Homo sapiens: one gene and its partners. The protein of the gene in region 4 purifies or fractionates together with the protein of the main gene of each other region. This does not show direct contact. Each region holds a gene or a part of one and is shown on either strand. Other genes may lie near its edges. The genes, in order: LPGAT1, POPDC2, GLS, ATCAY and CDCA7.

The links.
Region 1: the proteins of ATCAY (region 4) and LPGAT1 purify together in Homo sapiens (co-immunoprecipitation; one large-scale study listed by IntAct). This does not show direct contact.
Region 2: the proteins of ATCAY (region 4) and POPDC2 purify together in Homo sapiens (co-immunoprecipitation; one large-scale study listed by IntAct). This does not show direct contact.
Region 3: the proteins of ATCAY (region 4) and GLS purify together in Homo sapiens (affinity purification with western blotting, with the first as the bait; one study listed by BioGRID). This does not show direct contact.
Region 5: the proteins of ATCAY (region 4) and CDCA7 purify together in Homo sapiens (co-immunoprecipitation; one large-scale study listed by IntAct). This does not show direct contact.

What each region holds. Positions count from the first base shown.
Region 1 is NC_000001.11:211,792,757-211,796,272, reverse strand, and holds part of LPGAT1 (acyl-CoA:lysophosphatidylglycerol acyltransferase 1), read left to right. Parts: intron 1-3,082; coding exon 3,083-3,201; intron 3,202-3,516. UniProt on the Homo sapiens protein: Lysophospholipid acyltransferase involved in fatty acyl chain remodeling of glycerophospholipids in the endoplasmic reticulum membrane.
Region 2 is NC_000003.12:119,657,787-119,662,026, forward strand, and holds the start of POPDC2 (popeye domain-containing protein 2), read right to left. Parts: upstream 2,804-4,240; 5' UTR 2,638-2,803; coding exon 2,147-2,637; intron 1-2,146. UniProt on the Homo sapiens protein: Important for the maintenance of cardiac function.
Region 3 is NC_000002.12:190,908,318-190,911,833, forward strand, and holds part of GLS (glutaminase kidney isoform, mitochondrial isoform 1 precursor), read left to right. Parts: intron 1-1,945; coding exon 1,946-2,004; intron 2,005-3,516. UniProt on the Homo sapiens protein: Catalyzes the first reaction in the primary pathway for the renal catabolism of glutamine. Plays a role in maintaining acid-base homeostasis. Regulates the levels of the neurotransmitter glutamate, the main excitatory neurotransmitter in the brain.
Region 4 is NC_000019.10:3,908,172-3,911,687, reverse strand, and holds part of ATCAY (caytaxin), read right to left. Parts: intron 3,421-3,516; coding exon 3,318-3,420; intron 2,203-3,317; coding exon 2,071-2,202; intron 886-2,070; coding exon 799-885; intron 1-798.
Region 5 is NC_000002.12:173,353,556-173,357,680, forward strand, and holds the start of CDCA7 (cell division cycle-associated protein 7), read left to right. Parts: upstream 1-1,316; 5' UTR 1,317-1,408; coding exon 1,409-1,429; intron 1,430-4,125. UniProt on the Homo sapiens protein: Participates in MYC-mediated cell transformation and apoptosis; induces anchorage-independent growth and clonogenicity in lymphoblastoid cells. Insufficient to induce tumorigenicity when overexpressed but contributes to MYC-mediated tumorigenesis.

The DNA of each region.
Region 1 (3,516 bases), on a different chromosome or scaffold from region 4:
TTTGGGGGGACATGAATTTTTGGAGTATACTGTTCAACCCAGTACAGAGGGTTCCAAATTCAATTTATGTTTTCATATTTAAACCAGTCACACTTACTAGATTTATCTGATTTATATAAAGCAAACAGGTAAGATATATTTTATGTAAAAACTTATTCTTATTTGCAGTTATATTGACATATATGCCTTCCCACTGCATGGGCCTAGGTATCTAGTATTTTCCACTCATGTAGCACAGATTGCGTTAAAGGACTATTTGGTGATGAGACATCTATTAATACAGATGGAGAGCCAGAAAACTGTCCACATTACCTCTTAATAGCCCACTATTTATAGAACCAAGCTAGACTTTTCTTGAGTTTTAACTGCTGTTCACTTTAGAATAATACTTGAAATGTTCTTACTTATTTTATATCCACAACACCTAACCATGCCTGATGCTGATTTATTGAATGAAGATTGTATTAATGAAAGAATGTTGTGCATGTGTGTGTGTGTTTGTGTGTTTGTATGTCCGTGTGTCTCCATTGGAGGGTTGTCAACAGGGGCATATGGGGAGTTTTCATTTGGTTAGTATATTCTCTGTCCTTTTTAAAAACATAACTAGGCTGGGCGCGGTGGCTCAGGCCTGTAGTCTCAGCACGTTGGGAGGCCGAGGTGGGCGGATCACCTGAGGTTGGGAGTTGAAGACCAGCCTGACCAACATGGAGAAACCCCGTCTCTACTAAAAATACAAGATTAGCCGGGCGTGGTGGCGCATGCCTGTAATCCCAGCTACTTGGGAGGCTGAGGCAGGAGAATCGCTTGAACCTGGGAGTCGGAGGTTGCGGTGAGCTGAGATCACGCCATTGCACTCCAGCCTGGGCAACAAGAGCGAAACTCCGTCTCAAAAACAAAAAAACCAAACAAACAAAAAACACAACTAGTGGCATCCATCATCCTATTCTACACTTTGCTTTTATTACTTAAAGTATATCATTTCATCTTAGTACATAAGTGCTATGTTTGCATAATATTCCATTGCATAGATATAATTTATTTAGGTAGTCTCCCTTAAAAATGTTTTTAATTGTGGTAAAATACGCTAACATAAAATTCACCATCTTAATTTTTCAAGTGTACAGTTCAGTCTTGTTAAGTATATTCACATTGTTGTGGAACCGATATCTAAAACTTTTCCATCTTGTAAAACTGAAACACTGTACTCATTAAACAACAATTTCCCCCTCCCCCAGCCCCTGGCAACCACCATTTCTATGAATTTGAGTTAGCTTCTCTTTCTAGTTGTTTTCATCTTTGCTTTTACAATCAAAGCTGCAGTGAGTAGCCTTGTGTACATGTCATTTTGCACATAAATGAGTATATCTGTAGGATGCATTTCTAGAAGTAGAATTCCTAGGTAAAAAGGTTTGTGCATTTATTAATTTTGAAATATAGTGCAAAATTGGCTTCTAAACAGGTCTCCCTATCCCTATTTCATCCTGAGCTTTTACACACAGGTGGCTTGAATTCTTTCCTTGCAGCAGTGAGTGAGATAAGGTTAGGGTAAAGAATACTAATGTAGAATTGGCCTTTGATAATTCATATCAAAAAATGCTAGAAGATTCTTTGCAGAATTCTGATGTTTGAAAACTGAGGCTTGACATAAATTTACTGTAAAATGAGGTGGCCGAGTGCAGTGGCTCATGTCTGTAATGTCAATACTTTGAGAGGCTGAAGCCGGTGGATTGCTTGAGCCCAGGAGTTTGAGATCAGCCTGGGCAACATGGCAAAACCCTGTGTCTACAAAAAAAATACAAAAGTTAGCTGGACTTGGTGACATGCACCTGTATAGTCCCAGCTACTTGGGAGGCTGAGGTAGGAGGGTCACTGAGCCCAGGGAGCTTGAAGCTGCAGTGAGCCATTGTGATTGCACCATTGCACTCCAGCCAAGGTAACAGAGCAAGATCCTGTCTCAAAAAAGTTAAAAATAAATATAAAATGAAATGAGGCATAACTACATAGAAATACCACTGTTTCCCTTAGAATGTACGTATAGATTTTGGCGCAGTGACTTTTCATCTGATAACTTCAAATAATTTGGCATTTGTATTAGTTTTATTATTTTAAGGTGAAAGTATGCATTATTATGTCTGAATGTTTTCTTATAAAATAGAATCTGAAGGGTTGGGAACCACCTCTCATTGATGATCGGTATTAACAGTTTGAAATTTATTTTTCTAGACGTTTTTCAGTGCATTGAACAACACATGGATGGTATTCCTGCTTTAAAAAGATGGGATCATGCTATATTTACTGTTTTGTGATTTGCTTTGTTAGTTGATAATACATCTTTTTTGGGTTAGTGAATAAGAGATATCCTCCATTATTTTAACGGGTTTATACTCTCCTATTACATCATAATTTTCTTGTCCATTCCCTTGTTGGTGAACATTTAAGTTGTGATAAACATTCTTTATACATATATCTTTGCTTATTTGAACAAGTTTCTGTAGGATAAATTCTAGGAAATAGAACTTCTAGATCAAAGGTATGACCATAGCTGGGCACAGTGGCTCACGCCTGTAATCTCAGCACTTTGGGAGGCCAAGGCAGGTGGATCACTTGAGGTCAAGAGTTTGAGACCAGCCTGGCCAATATGGTGAAACCCCATCTCTACTAAAAATACAAAAATCAGCTGGGCGTGGTGGTGTGCACCTGTAATCCCAGCTACTTGGGAGGCTGAGGCAGGAGAATTGCTTGAACCCGGGAGGTAGAGGTTGCAGTGAGCCAAGATCGCACCACTACACTCCAGCCTGGGTGACAGAGCTAGACTCTGTCTCAAATATAAATAAATAAATAAATAAATAAATAAATAAATAAATAAATAATGATAATTTTATATTTTAATGTATATTTGGGGGCTCTATAAAAGTTATATTAACATTCTGATTTGCACAGGAAATAAACTTAGTTCTAAACTTTCGGATGTTTTAGCTAGGTGACATATCATCATTAATATACATCATTTTTTCTAATATAAGGTTTGTGATAATATAAAAATCTTTAAAATGACAGCTTTGAAACTTTTTTGTTCTTACAGTGATGGAATGGGGAGAAGATATTAAAGCAGTTTCAAAAGATGAAGCAGTGATGTTGGTGAATCATCAGGCAACAGGAGATGTGTGCACACTGATGATGTGCCTCCAGGACAAAGGACTGGTAAGCTACCCTGAAGGCAGTAGATAGACATCCAGAAAGGAAGGTTAAAAAGGAATCCATTTGGCCGGGCATGGTGGCTCATGTCTGTAATCCCAGCACTTTGGGAGGCTGAGGTGGGTGGATCATGAGGTCAAGAGATCGAGGCCATCCAGGACAACAGGGTGAAACCCCATCTCTACTAAAAATACAGAAATTAGCTGGGCGTGGTGGTGTGCACCTGTAGTCCCAGTTACTCGGGAGGCTGAGGCAAGAGAATTGCTTGAACCCGGGAGGCAGAAATTGCAGTGAGCCGAGATCACGCCACTGTACTCCAGC
Region 2 (4,240 bases), on a different chromosome or scaffold from region 4:
TCTTCCTTCTTGATCTACTGGAAGATGGATGATCTTCTCCTAAATGAATAGCTTAGATAGTTAGTTGCCTGCTCAGGGGGTTGTATATATGGAAGTTTGTGTTTTGAATTTTATATGAGAGAAACGTCTAAGTTAAGCGCTGCTTAACAGGGTGATAGACTTTGAGAAAGTCACTTTCCCTCTCTGAGTTTTGAAAGAGATTGGTTTCCTTTATTAAAACAAAACAAAAAGACTTCTGAGGTTTGAGTGAAGGACTCTAGAGAACAGTGTGCATGTGAGATGTGGAAGTCTGCACAAGAGTCCCCACTTCCTGGCACAAAGTTCTTGTCTGCTGCTTTGAGATGTTTGGTCCCTTACTGTAACCAGCCCAAGGTTCAGTGATTCTCCTTTAAAACTAGAGCCCAGTCATAGACTAGAAGCCTTTTCCTCTATGTCCAGCTCAGCAAAGCTGAGACAGGGTGACACTGAAAGATAACAAAACTCTTACTCCAAACCTTGAAAGGCAGGAAAAAAAAAAATCAAAATTGTCTAATTTCTGACTCAGCCTTTTGATGCTAAGTATACCAGGAAAAGCTACACCAAGGGCAAGCCCCCCTCTCCCCTTCACTGGGAAGTGATCTTATACAAGTTCACAGTAAATCTATCCTAACTGAACTATACAGTAACCATACATGCTTCCAGCAAATGGGCACCCTACACTGGAGGGAGCACTTCTGCTGCTCTCAATTTCCTCCTTTGAACAGACGAGCTATAACATCATGGGTCTCATGAATGAGCAAGTTCCCTAAATTGTCTTTAAGCATGGAACTATAGGTGCAAACATTTTCACAATAGTTATATGTATTTGTATTTACATCTATATCTGTTTACAAATAATCGCATTGGTTTACACTTTCAGTTCACCAATAAATGAAATGAAATGTACCCTCACAAAATGTCTCCCCTCCTAGCTCACTCTATCCAGGACCTCTGAGTTCAAACAAAATCAAAACATATATACATGATACTTCAGGTTCTATAAATGAATACACAAACACGTATTATTACTATTAGTGGTAGTTGTAGTACCATTAGCATCATTGTCAAACTTTTTTCTCCATTGTGTGGTTGGCAGTATTATCTGGATTTGCTTTTTTTTTTTTTTTTTCTTGGAATTGGAGCCTTCTAATTGCCATCTTACCTTTTCTATCACATTCTCCTGGTCTCAAGAAAGCTGGTGGAGTGGGGGTTGTGGGGCTCAAGAGCCACTAGGGCAGTATAAAAAAATCCACAATTGCCTACTAAGTGTGTAGCACAGAGCCCCGTGATGTTTTCTCAGAAGAAATCAATGCCCAACATTCACATCCAGGTTGACTGGGCATACACTGATCCTGACTAAGACCATTTCTGCCCATATCTGACTGTCAGCCTTCTCCAAAAGAGGCGGTGCTTCCACAAAAGCCTTGATGAGATAGGTGTATCACTTCTCTTCTCCCATTGTTGGGCCCTCAGATTTACAGTACTGTACTTGACTTCTTAGTCTTCAAGAACCTCAATAGAACAACTGGAAATGGAAAGGTGGGCAAGGGGTATTCACTCTCCCTACCTGGCTACATACAGCTACCCCAAACACAAGTGGGGCTGTTTGCTTGATGCCTTGGCAGGGAACAGGGGTTATGAGAACCACCCCGCTATCCCGACCTCCCATTTCTGGCATTGTTCCCTGAATACAGTTGGTGCTTAGCAAATGTTGAATTTGAGTAAGGAACAGATTAACCTTATTGAAATGTTAGTTTTTCAAAGCTTACAGAGATATTGCTGCAGCTTAGGCATGACACACTGATATGTGTGTGGTGATGGTAGAGGGGTTATTTAAGGCCCAGGCTCAAGACACACGCACTGCACACCTTCCAGCAGCAAGTGCACATACAATCATTCTTGCCAACCAAGATGCCTCATGAACTGGTTTCTTCTTGGAAAATGCCAAGAAAGAGGAAGCAACCCCACTCTTAGAAAAATCTATTTTGGTTTGTTTGACTTGTCACATCCTTCCCTCAATGGAAGGGGACACGAAATGGAAAGGGACATGAAATGGAAAGGGACACACTAGGAAATGAGAAGTGTGGGCTGGGGAAAGAAATTCTGGGCAATGGATAGAGTAGCTTACCGGCCAGAGAGCAGCAGGGACAGGCGGTTGATGGGTGTCTCACCCTCCACAGCATAGGTCTGTTCAGTGGCCAGAGTTAAGACCTGCTCCTCGCAGCAGTGAACAATCTCCTTGTATGTCTGTAGGGGCACCTGCAAGGGCAGGCACAGCGTCTTGTAGAGGAGGTCAAACTCCTCAGGGAGGGTGTCCTCACGCAGGCGGTATACCAGGTGTGCCAGCTGGAGCAGGCAGACCACAGCCAGCAGGAAGCTCCAAAGAACAATGTCCAGGCCACAGGCACTGAACCAGCCCCACAGCACGCAGCACAGGTAACCTGCACTCAGGAAGCCAAAAAGATAGAAGCATCCATACACCCCACTGCCCCCCATGAAGCCCAGGAGTAAGAGGCAGTTGGCTAGGTGGTAGACAGCCCCTTCCACATCCTGCTTCCACCTAATGCACGCTGAACCCTGCAAGAGAAGCTGGCCCACTCTGCTGCTGTTGGCGCTCATCTTTGGGGCCTCTCAAAGCCTCACTGGGCTCTAATACTGTCCTCACATAGGAAATTCAGAAAATGAATGAATCCATCCGCTCAGGGGTCTTCTCACCTCCGGCTTCTCACTACCGACTCCACCTTTCCTAGAAGGAATGCTTCCGGTGGCTTTGGGAAGGAATGATGGAACATAGTACACTTCATGGAGAATTTAAAAACCTCTTTCTCTCTCTCTCTCTCTCTCCCCCTCTCCCCCCCTCTCTCCTCCCCACCACCCCCGCTGTCTCAGCAAGGCTCTGGCTCTCCCTGCAGAGCTCTGGCAAGCTTCCTTGGTTCCATGTTTCTTGGGAGTCTTCAAATTTGGTTCTTAGCAGAAAAACCTAAATAGTCCCAAGGGAAAGTAGCACTACAGGACTGAAAAGTCCAGCAGCGTGGGATGATGCGGCCACATCCTGCTCTCTGTTTTTCCCAAGCAGAATGAGGAGAGCCAGCATGGGAGGCACATTTGTGTTCCATTTGGAATGTGTTCTCTCTTGGCACCGGAAGAAAGGGTGACCCCAGATGGATACCATGTTTGGAATTGGAATCCAAGAGGTACTGGCAGTGAGAAAAAACAGGCCAGGCACAGGCAGCCTGGCAGAGCACTTAACATACCTCCCAGAGGACAAGATAAGACCTCAGGGTCAGAGAGACAGACAAGGAGAGAGAAAGGAAAAGTGAGCACAGAATTCACCTGAACACCTCAGGCAGGAAACTGTCCCGAGCTCCCTTTGGGGAGAGCCAGACAGTGCTTCTGAGTGAGGACACATCAGAGTAGGAAAGTATGGGACTATTATCAGAAAAAATCCTAACAGTGAAAGCTGGAAAACCCCCTGAAGGCCTTTATTAAGTCACACTGCAAATATCATTATGTATTTATTTGACATCCATTTAACAAAAGTAGCTATGTAAAGTGGCTTTTTGAATTCTAAGCTGGCTTTCCCCTGCATATATCTGGATCTGGTAATAGTAAACAAATAATAATACATTGCCCAGATCATCATCCCACCCACTCCGGTGCTTCCAAATTATAATTCCCACCTATTAAACACCCATGAAGTGCCAAACCTAGATTAGGCATTTTATACACTTATAAGTTAGTTGTGACAACAATCCTTCAAAATAAATATTATTCTCCTTCTAGATCTGGAAGAAACTGAGGCTCAGAGAGGTAACAAGCTCCCACAGATGGTCTAAGTGGCAGAGCCAGGATTTGAACCCAAGTCTGTCAAACTTAATACTCTGTCCCAAGGGGTTTGCCAGTAAGTGGAAGTACAGTACTAGATCCATGACTCCCAACTCCACACTTCTATGAAGTCTGACAATTTTCAAGGAACTTCTGGTTGAACCTAGGAATCTACTTTGGGCTGCCAAGAGATAAAGCTGGAGTATGCAAACATTAGGCTAAGAAATGTTAGTTGGGCACAGTGGCTTACGCCTATAATCGCAGCACTTTGGGAGGCTGAGGCGGGTGGATCACCTGAGTGAGGCTGGAGTTCGAGACCAGCCTGGCCAACATGGTGGAAACCCTGTCTCTACTAAAAGTATAAAAATTAGCTGGGCGTGGTGGCGGGCACCTGTAG
Region 3 (3,516 bases), on a different chromosome or scaffold from region 4:
TCAGCCTCACCTGTGAACAAAACCCTTGTAAGGTTCATATGCTTAGCAGCTTGAAAAGCTTCTTTTGATATAATATGAAAGAATGCTGTGTATTTTATTGCCTTTGGGGAAAATAAATACTTGTTAAAATTGATCTTTTTTTGCATTATAGTTTAAAGCATGTTCATAAATTTCAGATGTCACCCATGTCCATTTTGTCAGTATAACACGCTCTGATATTTCGTTACTTTAAATGATAGCCTTTATTAGTGTTGTAGGTTATTTCTGCCATTCAAAACTTTTTTAAATTAAAAATTCTAAATTAAACCCATCAACTCCATCTTACCTTAAGACAGAGCAGGGAAGCAAGAAAATTTCACGGTCATAGGTCTTAGGCCGAGGTTTTATACTGCAGTTAGGCTGGTGGTGTGTTACATTCTCTCTGGCGGGTTTCCGGATGTTCAGATGTCTGGCTTTTGAGCCAAAGGCAGAATGAGCAATTACATACATCTGAAAATTGGGCTGTCATGCCTTAAAATGATTTAGTGTTCTTTAAGACATCTTGAGTGTAGTATATGTAGCATTTGCAGAGTATTTATCATTTGGAAAATATTTAATACTCACATTTATGTGATACCATTTGGAGTACATAGATTAGCAGTCTTCTAGGACTGTAGAGTCTAAGCCTGATAATGTCAAAAGCTCTGAAATGACAGATAATAAACATCCATACAAATAAAAGTATAAACTAATTTATACTAATTTAAACTAATTTAAACTAATTTGGGATAGGCAAATCTTGATTGTAATAATCAGATATAACACAAAGATTTTATTTTAACTTTTGAAACTTGGCATTATGAATACACCCAAAATGTAGGATATTTTTCTTTTTATTTATTTATTTTTAATTGACAGATAAAAATTGTGTATATGGTATACAACATAGTGATTTGAAATATATATGCATTGTGGAATGGCTAAATCAAAGTAACATACATTACTTCATATATTTATTTGTAATGAGAAGACAAAGTATGCTTTCTTAACAATTTTCAAGTACATATAATACTTGTTATTAATTATATCATGTTATAAAATAGATCTCTTGAACTTATTCCCCCTGTGTAACTGAAATTATGTGTCCTTTGACCAACATCTGGCAATCCCTTCTCCCCCCTCCCCCACTTCTGGTAACCACCAGGTAGATAAATTAAGATGTTGAGGTTCGCTTGTAAATAGATGTTTTCACTGTCCCCAAGATTTTATTTTTGGTGCTTGTGTCATGCAGTGAATGAGAATATAATCAGTTGAGTTTTGAAATTCTTATTTATTGTAAGAATTAGGAGAAGAAATAGGAGTTTGGATTAATGTAAAGTTTTAAGTAACTTTAAAATTATATAAGAAATACAAATATACCTTTATTGTCAGGAAATACAGAAAGCCTAAAAATATCCCCTATAGGCTGTGCATGGTGGCTCATGCCTATAATCCCAGCACTTTGGGAGGCCAAGGCGGGAGGATTGCTTGAGTCCTGGAGTTTGAGTCCAGCCTGGGCAACATAGGGAGATCCTGTCTCTACAGAAAATAAAACATTAGCCAGGTGTGGTATGTGCCTGTGGTCCCAGCTTCTTTGGAGTCTGAGGCTGGAGGATCACTTAAGCCTGGGAGGTCAAGGCTTCAGTGAGCCATGATTGTGCCACTGCACTTCAGCCTGGGCGACAGTCTGAAACTTTGGCTCTTAAAAAAAAAATCCCTTATAATTTTATTATTCTATGTAAATCACTTGTTTGTGTTTTGAAATCCTTCTGTGTATGTGCTTGTATATAAAGATAAAAATAAAGCACTAAGAAAAAAGCAAAATTGAGTACGTTAGCTGTGCTTTTTCCAAGGTCATTTTTAGTATAGTAATATTACTCAAGTGTTTAAGTATTTGAAATAATGGTATTGCTTTTATATTTTACAGATAAACCACATAATCCTATGGTAAATGCTGGAGCAATTGTTGTGACTTCACTAATAAAGGTAAAATGTTGATGTTTCATTTTAACCTAGTAAAACTTTTTTTTTTTAACAGCTAAGGCATAAAGATGAATCTGGGATTATTTATGTAGAATTATGAAAAATTTTCTCTTGGTGTTAAGAAATTTGTCTTATGGTATAGTGTTAGGATCTTTATTTCAAAATAAATGATGTAGTCATTTCAAGGCAAAATTAAAACAGATGACTCATTGTAAATTCCAACAGTCATTTACTCTTGACTTGAAGATCTGGAAAATATTTAAAGTCTGCTGAAGAAAGGCATAGAGGCTTTTTTTTTTTTTTTAAAGTTTTGATATTTTTCCTTTCGTTTCCTTTTGGTTCTTCCAGAATGAACAGTTATAAATAGAATTAAAGGCATTTTACTGTATATTTGTTATTAGTATATGTGGGAACAAATGTTCTGGTACTTAAGACAAAGTACATTTACCCTCAAATATTCTCAAGTCTTTGATACTCTCATGAGCTGAAATCACAGTTTTTATTGGAACTTGTTTCATTTGGTTTTACTTAAATCATGCCATAATTAAAATAAATAAGGCTTATTCCAATTATGGAGTTATATTTTCTTATGCTTTGAAATTTGCATTGTAAGGGTTTTTTTTTTTTTTAGTGTTTGGTTTGCGTTAATAATTGGAAGATCTAGTATTTTAAAATAAGTATTTGAAAATGGTTCCTGTGTGATAGATTTTTAAATCTACCACACGATTTTAGATGTTTCAGATTTTTAATTTCTAATTATAAATTTTATTTATATTTAAATAAATTTTATTTATGTTTGGAACATTTGTATACTTCTTTGGTAAATCTGTGCCTATCTATTCCAAGTTAGAGGAAAGCATAACTACATGGCCTTGTAAATGCATTACTGTGGATAAGGTACCCTGGTTACATGAAGGATATTTGAGTATAAATGATACCCTTGGCCCAGTTCACAAAATTTCATCTAACTTGTATACTAGAAAGCCTTTCTTAACTTTTAAGAGTTTTATATCTGTGAGAAAAAGCTTTTAAAATAGAAGGCTGGTATCTTAAGAATCTATATGTTTACTTGTTACTTCAAGGCAAATTCTTTGAAAGTATTGGCCCATTTAATTCTTATAACTCTAATGAAGTAGATGTTATAGCCAAGTGTTTTTAAAATGTAACTAATTGTAATAGGATATGGAGAAAGCTGTCAGTTTGAGCTGAAAGAAACTTGAAAATGCGATTATTTGCAAGGCACAGTCCTAGCTTTAGGTAGCTTACTTTGTAGTGTGGGATATGCAAAAGTAAATGGGTCCTTATAAGAAAATTCAATAAATGCTGTGATGAGAGAAAAGCCTCATTAATAATTGCTTAGATTTGAACAAGTAACTTAAAGTAGAAATAAGGAAACACATACTATAATGTATGTGTTAATGCTTGATGACAAAAACACCAAAAGTGTTTCTTCCCAGAAAAATATCCACATACCATAATTTTACATAAACTTTCAGGTGTTCACTACTCTTCGAG
Region 4 (3,516 bases):
TTAACATGCCTAATTTTATTTCACTTGATCTGTTTTACTATATGTTTAATATAGTAACTATATATGATATACATTATAGAATATATGTAGTTTTAAATTTTAAATTTATTAGTCATATTATTTATTTATTTATACATACATATATATATATTTTATTTTTAGAGACAGGGTTGTTTTGCTCTGTCTCCCAGGCTGGAGTGCAGTGGAGTGATCATAGCTCACTGCAGCCTCTACCTCCTGGGCTCAAGTGATCCTCCTGCCTCAGCCTCCTGAGTAGCTGGGACTACAGGCATGTGATGCCATGCATGACTGATTTTCTTTTGAGACAGGGTCTCACTCTGTCATCCAGGCTGGAGTACAGTGGCTCGATCACGGCTCATTGCAGCCTTGATCTCCTGGGCTCAAGCCATCCTCCCACGTGAGCCTCCCAAGTAGCTGAAACTACAGGTGTGCACCACCACGTCCTGCTAATTTTTGTATTTTTTGTAGAGATGGGGGTTTTGCTATGTTGCTCAGGCTGGCCTCAAACGATCCTCCCACCTCAGCCTTCTGAGTAGCTGGGATTACAGGTGTCAGCCACTGTGCCTGGCTGTGTGCAATTTAAAACTGTTTAAAGCAATAATATGTATTCATCATAGAGAAGCTGGAACATGCACATCAAACACACACATGGATGCACACACACACAGATGCACACACGCACACACGTGCACACATGCACACACAAATGCATGCATACACACACGCACACACGCACACTGAGGCCACTGGACTTGGGTTGCAGCCTCCCCGTCTCACCTGATGAAAGGGCGAGAGATGGCCAGCACAGTCCGAATGAACCACGAGGGGTGGACGATGATCAAGGACTTCAGGTTTTTCCGCAACCTGTGTGGGGCCGCAAAGGAAGCAAGATGGGCTCCTGGGGCGAGCCCTGGGGAGGGAGGAGCTGGGTGGGACGGGAGAGCCACAAGCAAGCATTCGTCACTCTGCTCATTCCACGTGTGGTCTCCAGGTACCTGTCAAATCCCTGCCCCCATCCAAGACATGGGGGTCCTATGGTGGGATAAAGACACACCCTTTGAGTCCCTAAGACCCTCAGGTGGATGAGGTAGGTAGAGACCCCATGGTGCAGAGCAGGTGAACCAGGTTGGTAGTTATTTGAGCAGCCAAGATTGTATTTTCACCACCTAATGCCCTAGGAGGGACCAGCCTGTCCTTGGAGCCTCCCTCCACTAACCTGGGTGCAAGGATGGATTGGCTGGCTCAATTTTAATGTCACTCTGAGGCTATTTACAATAACTCAGGGGTGGAAGCAACCCATGTCCATCAAGAGATGAATGGAATGGACAAACCAAATGTGGTATGTCCATACAGTGGAATATTATGCAGCCATGAAAAGGAAGGAGGCTCTGACACAGGCTACAATGTGGATGCACCCTGAGGACATCACACTCAGTGAGGAAAGCCAGACACAAAAGGACAAATCCTGTGTGATTCCAGTCCTAGGAGGTCCCTAGAGTCATCAGATTTACAGAGACAGAAAGTAGGATGGGGGGTGCCGGAGCCTGGGGAGAAGGAATAGGGAGTGAGTGTTTCATGGGGACAGAGTCTCGCTCTGTTGCCCAGGCTGAAGTGCAGTGGCATGATCTCGGCTCACTGCAACCTCCACCTCCTGGGTTCAAGTGATTCTCCTGCCTCAGCTTCCCAAGTAGCTGGGACTACAGGCATGCGCCACCACGCCCAGCTAATTTTTGAATTTTTTTAGTAGAGATGGGGTTTCACTATATGTTGGCCGGGCTGGTCTTGAACTCCTGACCTCAGGTGATCCACCCACCTTGGCCTCCCAAAGTGCTGGGATTAGAGGTGTGAGCCCCCTTGCCCGGCCTAAAAGTTTTTCTGTAGAGACAGCGTCTTGCTGCGTTGCCCAGGCTGGTCTCAAACTCCTGGGCTCAAGGGACCTTCCCACCTCAGCCTCCCGAAGTGCTGGGATTCCAGGTGTGAGCCACCATGTCCAGCCCCCTGTGTGATTTTCATGCCCCCACTGTGCTTCCTGAGGCATCCCCACCTCACCTCCGGTCGATCATCTGGTAGCACTTCTTCAGCCAGCCGATTCCAGGCATCCTCCGCCGGGGCGTGGCACCGTTCAGGTACACGATCATGTAGTCCTCAGCCACCAGGAGCTCTAAGCTGCTGATGACGTACCTGCTCACGGGGCACAGAAGGCAGGGACCCAACATGGAGGGGTCCAGGGTCAGGACACCTGCGGTGCCGACCCTGCCTGCCTCCACTCCTGCCGCTGGCTGGGTCAGCCCCACTGGTCCAGGTGTTGTCTGCTGTCCTGGCGGACTGCAGGGTGGGAGAGGACGTGGATGATCCCAGCACACTCCACATGAGTGTCAGCGGGCATCCTCATAGGGCAGTTACTCTTTTATTGAGTCGTTTTTTTTTTTTGAGACGGAATCTCGCTCTGTTGCCCAGGCTAGAGTGCAGTGGTGCGATCTCGGCTCACTGCAAGCTCCGCCTCCCAGGTTCACGCCATTCTCCTGCCACAGCCTCCCTAGTAGCTGGGATTACAGGCGCCTGCCACCGAGCCCAGCTAAATTGTAGTTTTAGTAGAGGCAGGATTTCACTATGTTGGCCAGGCTGGTCTCTAGGCCTTGCTTTTTTTTTTTTTTTTTTTTTTTGAGACAGGTTCTCACTCTGTCACCCAGGCTGGAGTGCAGTGGTGCCATCTCAGAGCGGGAAGAGGAGGAGGAAGGGGAAGAGGATGGGGAGGAGGAGGATGGGGAGGGGGAGGAGAGGGAAGGAGAGGAAGATGAGGGAAGGAGGAGAAGGAGGAGGAAGGGGGGAGAAAGGGGAGGAAGAGAAAGAGGATGAGGTGGAGAAAGGGGAGGAAGAGGAGGAGAAGGAAGAGGGGGGAGGAGGAGAGGGAAGGGGAAGAGGGGGAGGAGGAGAGGGAAGGGGAGGAGGAGGAGAAAAGGGAGGAGGAGGGGGGAGGAAGAAGGGGAGGAGAAGGAGGAGAAGAAAGGGGAAGGGGGAGGAAGAAGGGGAGGAGGAGGAGGACAGTGAGGAGGAGGGGAAGGAGGAGGAAGAGGAGGAGGAGGAGGACGGGGAGGAGAACAGGGTGGCCCAGAGGGAAGGCCACTGTGAGCCTCAGGGCCAGCAGGGACTCAGATCAAGGTCTGTGGCCACCACGCCCTTCCCTGGTGCCAGGCAGGCTTCCTAGGGCCACAATGCAATCCTTGCAGCCTGGTGCCCCTGTGGCCAGGGAGGCATCAGAGCTGGCCCGAGGCTGCTCGCCGCGGGCGGGGACTCACAGGAAGAGGTTCTCCATGATGTAGTGGTAGTCGGGGAGGCTGCTGTCTGGAAGGAAGCAGGCTGCGAAGACGATGATGGCGTTGAGGCCTTCGCCGTAGTACCCTGAGGAGAGGCAGCCGATCGGCAACGTCAGAGTCCTCTCCCAGCCCTGAGCTGCCTCCCGCGCACCACCCACCACGTCCCGGTGCCCACACGCTC
Region 5 (4,125 bases), on a different chromosome or scaffold from region 4:
CATATATTTAGCTTTAGTGGCACAAAATTATATTCCCAAATGTTTATTCATTCAACAAATACTTACTGAGGGCCCTGTAATTCCGTAATTTCACCACCCACCGATAGCCTCTCCTCCTGGCACTCACCTTCTAGACCTTGAGCTCTTTGTCCCTTGCACAGTGGCAGAGTGATTACTGGGTAGGTATATTTAAGAAAGGCTGGAAGACTCCTTCCAATCCATTGTCCTCGGGCATTATTTACTTGCTCACAGTTTTTGTATTCAGTACACCAAGAGAGGAACACAGTATGTCCATGCACTCTCTTACTGCAAAGGAATTAATTATTCCCCAGAGAAAAGTTTTGAAATGAGGGGGAAATGCGAATGTTTTCATTTCAAGCGCTTGTTTTAAATGTTAAGAGTATAATTAGTGTCTTCTAAAGAAACTAAATTTACTTTTTCTTGTAGAAGCAAGTTTTGCTCTTCACGCACACAAAAAGCCTCGCTTTATTTCATTTTTTCGTTGTAATGCCAAGTTTGGTTAAAAGGGCAATGAAAAGTTTTCTCGTTCGCACTGACTCAGGGTAGTTCTCAATTCTGAAGACAGAGAAGATCATCAAGCCACAATTGTTCAATCTTTAGTTTCAATCCCCAACAGATAATCGTTAAAGGTTAACTATACTATAGACGTCTTCATCAAGCTGCTGCGGCTTTTCTTCTACTTTGAAAACCACAAGTAAACAAGTCGGCTTCCTGTGCTTTTTGGAAAGAAAGATCAGGATTTAACTCATTTTATTGCTTCAGATAATGGTGTGGTTCCCAGATAAGAGGTGCTACATCCAGGGGCGGTGAACTCGATTATGAAGGGTGGAGTTCGTGCTGGATTCTATGATTTTTTAAATCTTGTAAACCGCACGCAGCAATGAAAGTGCTAAACGCCATGGTGCGTGACCCGCGCCACCCTCACGCTGCTCTCCTTTACCCCCCAGACTCCACTTTTCCTCCGCCACCACGAAAATTCTTGCAAATCAGACAGCTAACCCCGGGGCAATACGAACCATTTTCGCGCCACTCGCTCAGGACCGCGCAGCTGCACAAGGAGAGTGGTCCCCGTAGCCCCTAAAGCCCCCCTTTCTCAAAGGGGATTTTAGGAGTGCCCAAGGCTATCCTTTGAGGTCAGAATATATAGGGGGGTCGTGTTTTTTCCAGGGGGCCACCTAGTCTTGCGCCATGTCTGGCCGTTACCACAGCTTGCAGGACCTGTGTCCCAACGCGGGAAAGACAGCCCGAGCCCCGCCCCTCCGGGCCCGGGTCGGCGCGCCCAGCCTGCCAGCCGCGCTGCTGCTGCTCCTCCTGCTGTGGGACCGCTGACCGCGCGGCTGCTCCGCTCTCCCCGCTCCAAGCGCCGATCTGGGCACCCGCCACCAGCATGGACGCTCGCCGCGTGCCGGTGAGGGCTGGGCGGGCGAACCCGAGGGGCGGGCGCGGTGGGTGCTGGACGCAGGCGGGCGCGGGCCGACCCTCTCCAACTCCGCAGCCTAGCGCTGCCTTAACTGGTGGCCTGCCTAGGCGTTGCCCGCTTGGGCAAGCCCCTGATTTTGTGCACCTGGGATAACTGAGGGCCATGGGGACGTTCCTGCGTGGCGTGCGCACCCGAAGTGCGGGCGGCGTGGAGACTTGAGTCGTTTGCAGGATGGCTAGCAGCGCTGGAAAGCCCTAGGCACGTGCGTCCGCCAAAGGCCGGACAGCGGCCGGGAGCGCTGGCCGGTCCCGATTTTGCCTGCCAGGCAGAGCCAGCCTGCCTGCCCCCTGGGAGGTTGTCCCGCAGCGGCCCAGCCCTTTCCCGCACACAACTCGGAGCCAGTGCGTGGCTCGCCGCGTCTATACCCGCGCTCAGTGGGTGGCCCTTGGGCGCGCACCCCGCCCGGCAAGAGACGCGTCCGCTTCTAACCGCTGAGGGCCAGCGCGTCTGAGGTTTAAGGTCTTGCGAACCGGTCTCCTAGAACTTGGGCTGCGCACGCAGTGTGAAGCGACCGTAGTCCCGGGCGGTGGTTAAGTGCATTTAAAGGGCTTGGTGGGTCAAAGCGTTCGCCGACCATTTGCTCGTTTCCTACTTCCTCCACCCCAACCCCCAACCCCCCACCCCCCACCCCCCAGCCTTACTCTTAGCTGCAGGACGTTGCTCTGAGTGGAACGTTACTTTTTGCTCTAACGGAAGCCAGAACGTAGGGTCGGGCTCCTGGAGAGGGTAGAAGAGTGGGGGTTGGGTGAAACGGAAGACAATGACATGTTTAAAATAAATATCAGGGGTTAGGGACCCTCGCGGGGGTGGGTGCGATGGGGCGTGGTTTCAGAGCTGAGTCGCCGCCCCGGTGGAGCTGGGCATTGGCTTTCCGGATGAAGAAAACCATGTGTAGCTGGTCTTGGAACCTGACATGCCTGAGTTCAAATCTGAGCCACCATGGGACTTGAGTAATCCATTTCGCTTTCCTGAGCCTCAGTTTCCTCATTGGCTAAGTGAGAATAACGATAGCACCTTTGTTGCAAAGAATTAAACCTGACGTGAAAGTGTACTTAACATAGTGCCTGGCACGAAAAACGCCTACTATAAATGGTATTAGTTATTACTTACCTGCCAAAGAAGTTCATCTCCGTCTTGACTATTTGCCTTGCTGCTTTTTTGTGGCTTTTCCTCCAAAGATACGTTTGCCTGGTAAATAACTCTTGGCTTGTGCTGACTTGTTAAAGCTCAGCCTGTATTTCTCGGACAGCTTCCAATAGAATGCCGCCTTTGAGGCTGTCTGGGGCCTCTGACTGCTTGCAGGTAGATTGATGAGTAAAGGGTGGTAATTCCTGCAGTAATGCGATGAACACTGCTGCTTAAGAAGATGGCAGACTTGAGTTCTCCTTCCTGCCCCTGTGATCTTGCAGTCTATTACACCTTCCTGGGGCCTTGAATATCCTCATCTGGAAAATGGGATCTGAGATCCTTTTCAGCTCCCAACATTCATTGTGTCCCAGGCTGGAGTGCAGTGGCACAGTCACGGCTCACTGCAGCCTACCGGGCTCAAGCAGTCTTCCCACCTCAGCCTCCCAAGTAACTGGGATTACATGTACGCACCGCCACATCCGGCTGATTTTTGTGTTTTTAGTAGAGACGGGGTTTCACCATATTCCCCACGCTGGTCTCGAACTCGTGGGCTCAAGTGATCCTCCCACCTTGGCTTCCCAAAGCGCTGAGATTACAGGTGTGAGCCACCCCCCTACACATACACCTAACCTTTATATTTAGTAGCTCTACCTTTTACACGTTGTCCTGCCTTGTTAAGAGGGCAAAAGACAAAAACTTCCTAAGATGATTGAACGGAGTTTACTTAGGGGTATAGGGATGTTGGGAGTGCCATCATCATGAAAATAACTTTATCTGCAAGAGACTGAAATGCGTAATGTTAGGCCAAGAAGGAGGGCAAGAATGTTCTGGTCACCTGACATCTTACATCTTAGCATATTTTGTAGAATCTATACCAGAGCTTGCCCTTTCAAAGTTTTCAGTGTAAGGAATCACTTCTGCTATTCCATGGCCCCATTTAAGGAATAAAAACACAGGACCTAATGCAACACTTAGGAAATCTCGTTAAATATTAAGAAATGACAAACCACTATCCTTTTTTTATACAAGATAGATGCCAATTACATTTTCTGAGAGCAGTGCCAGGCTGTTCAGTATTTATGAATGAATGAAGCATTTCTATGTAAGTAATTTGCACTTTATAAAAGGACTTTTAAAAACTTAAGTCTTGTATAGCAAAGGGACAGCAACAAGAACTGAATGACAGCCTCAAGTAATAGAGTGCTAAAATGGAATCCGGTATCCCACCTGCATTTGGAGTGCTATTTGATCTTTAACTTGGCTCCTTGTACCATTTGTTGAAGCGTTTGATGTATTTGCTTTGTAAGGACTTCTGTGGAAATCACGATAGCCCTCTTGATTGGAAAGGGGCCTGCTTGGAAGCCTGCCATCTTGAAGTAGAGGTCCTGCCCAGTTTTTGTAGTTTGTGAAATTAGCATCACAGTACATAGCCCAAAGCTTACATAAAAATACCTCATTAGCTTGATTTTGGCTGAGGGAGAAAAATCTTTCTCCCC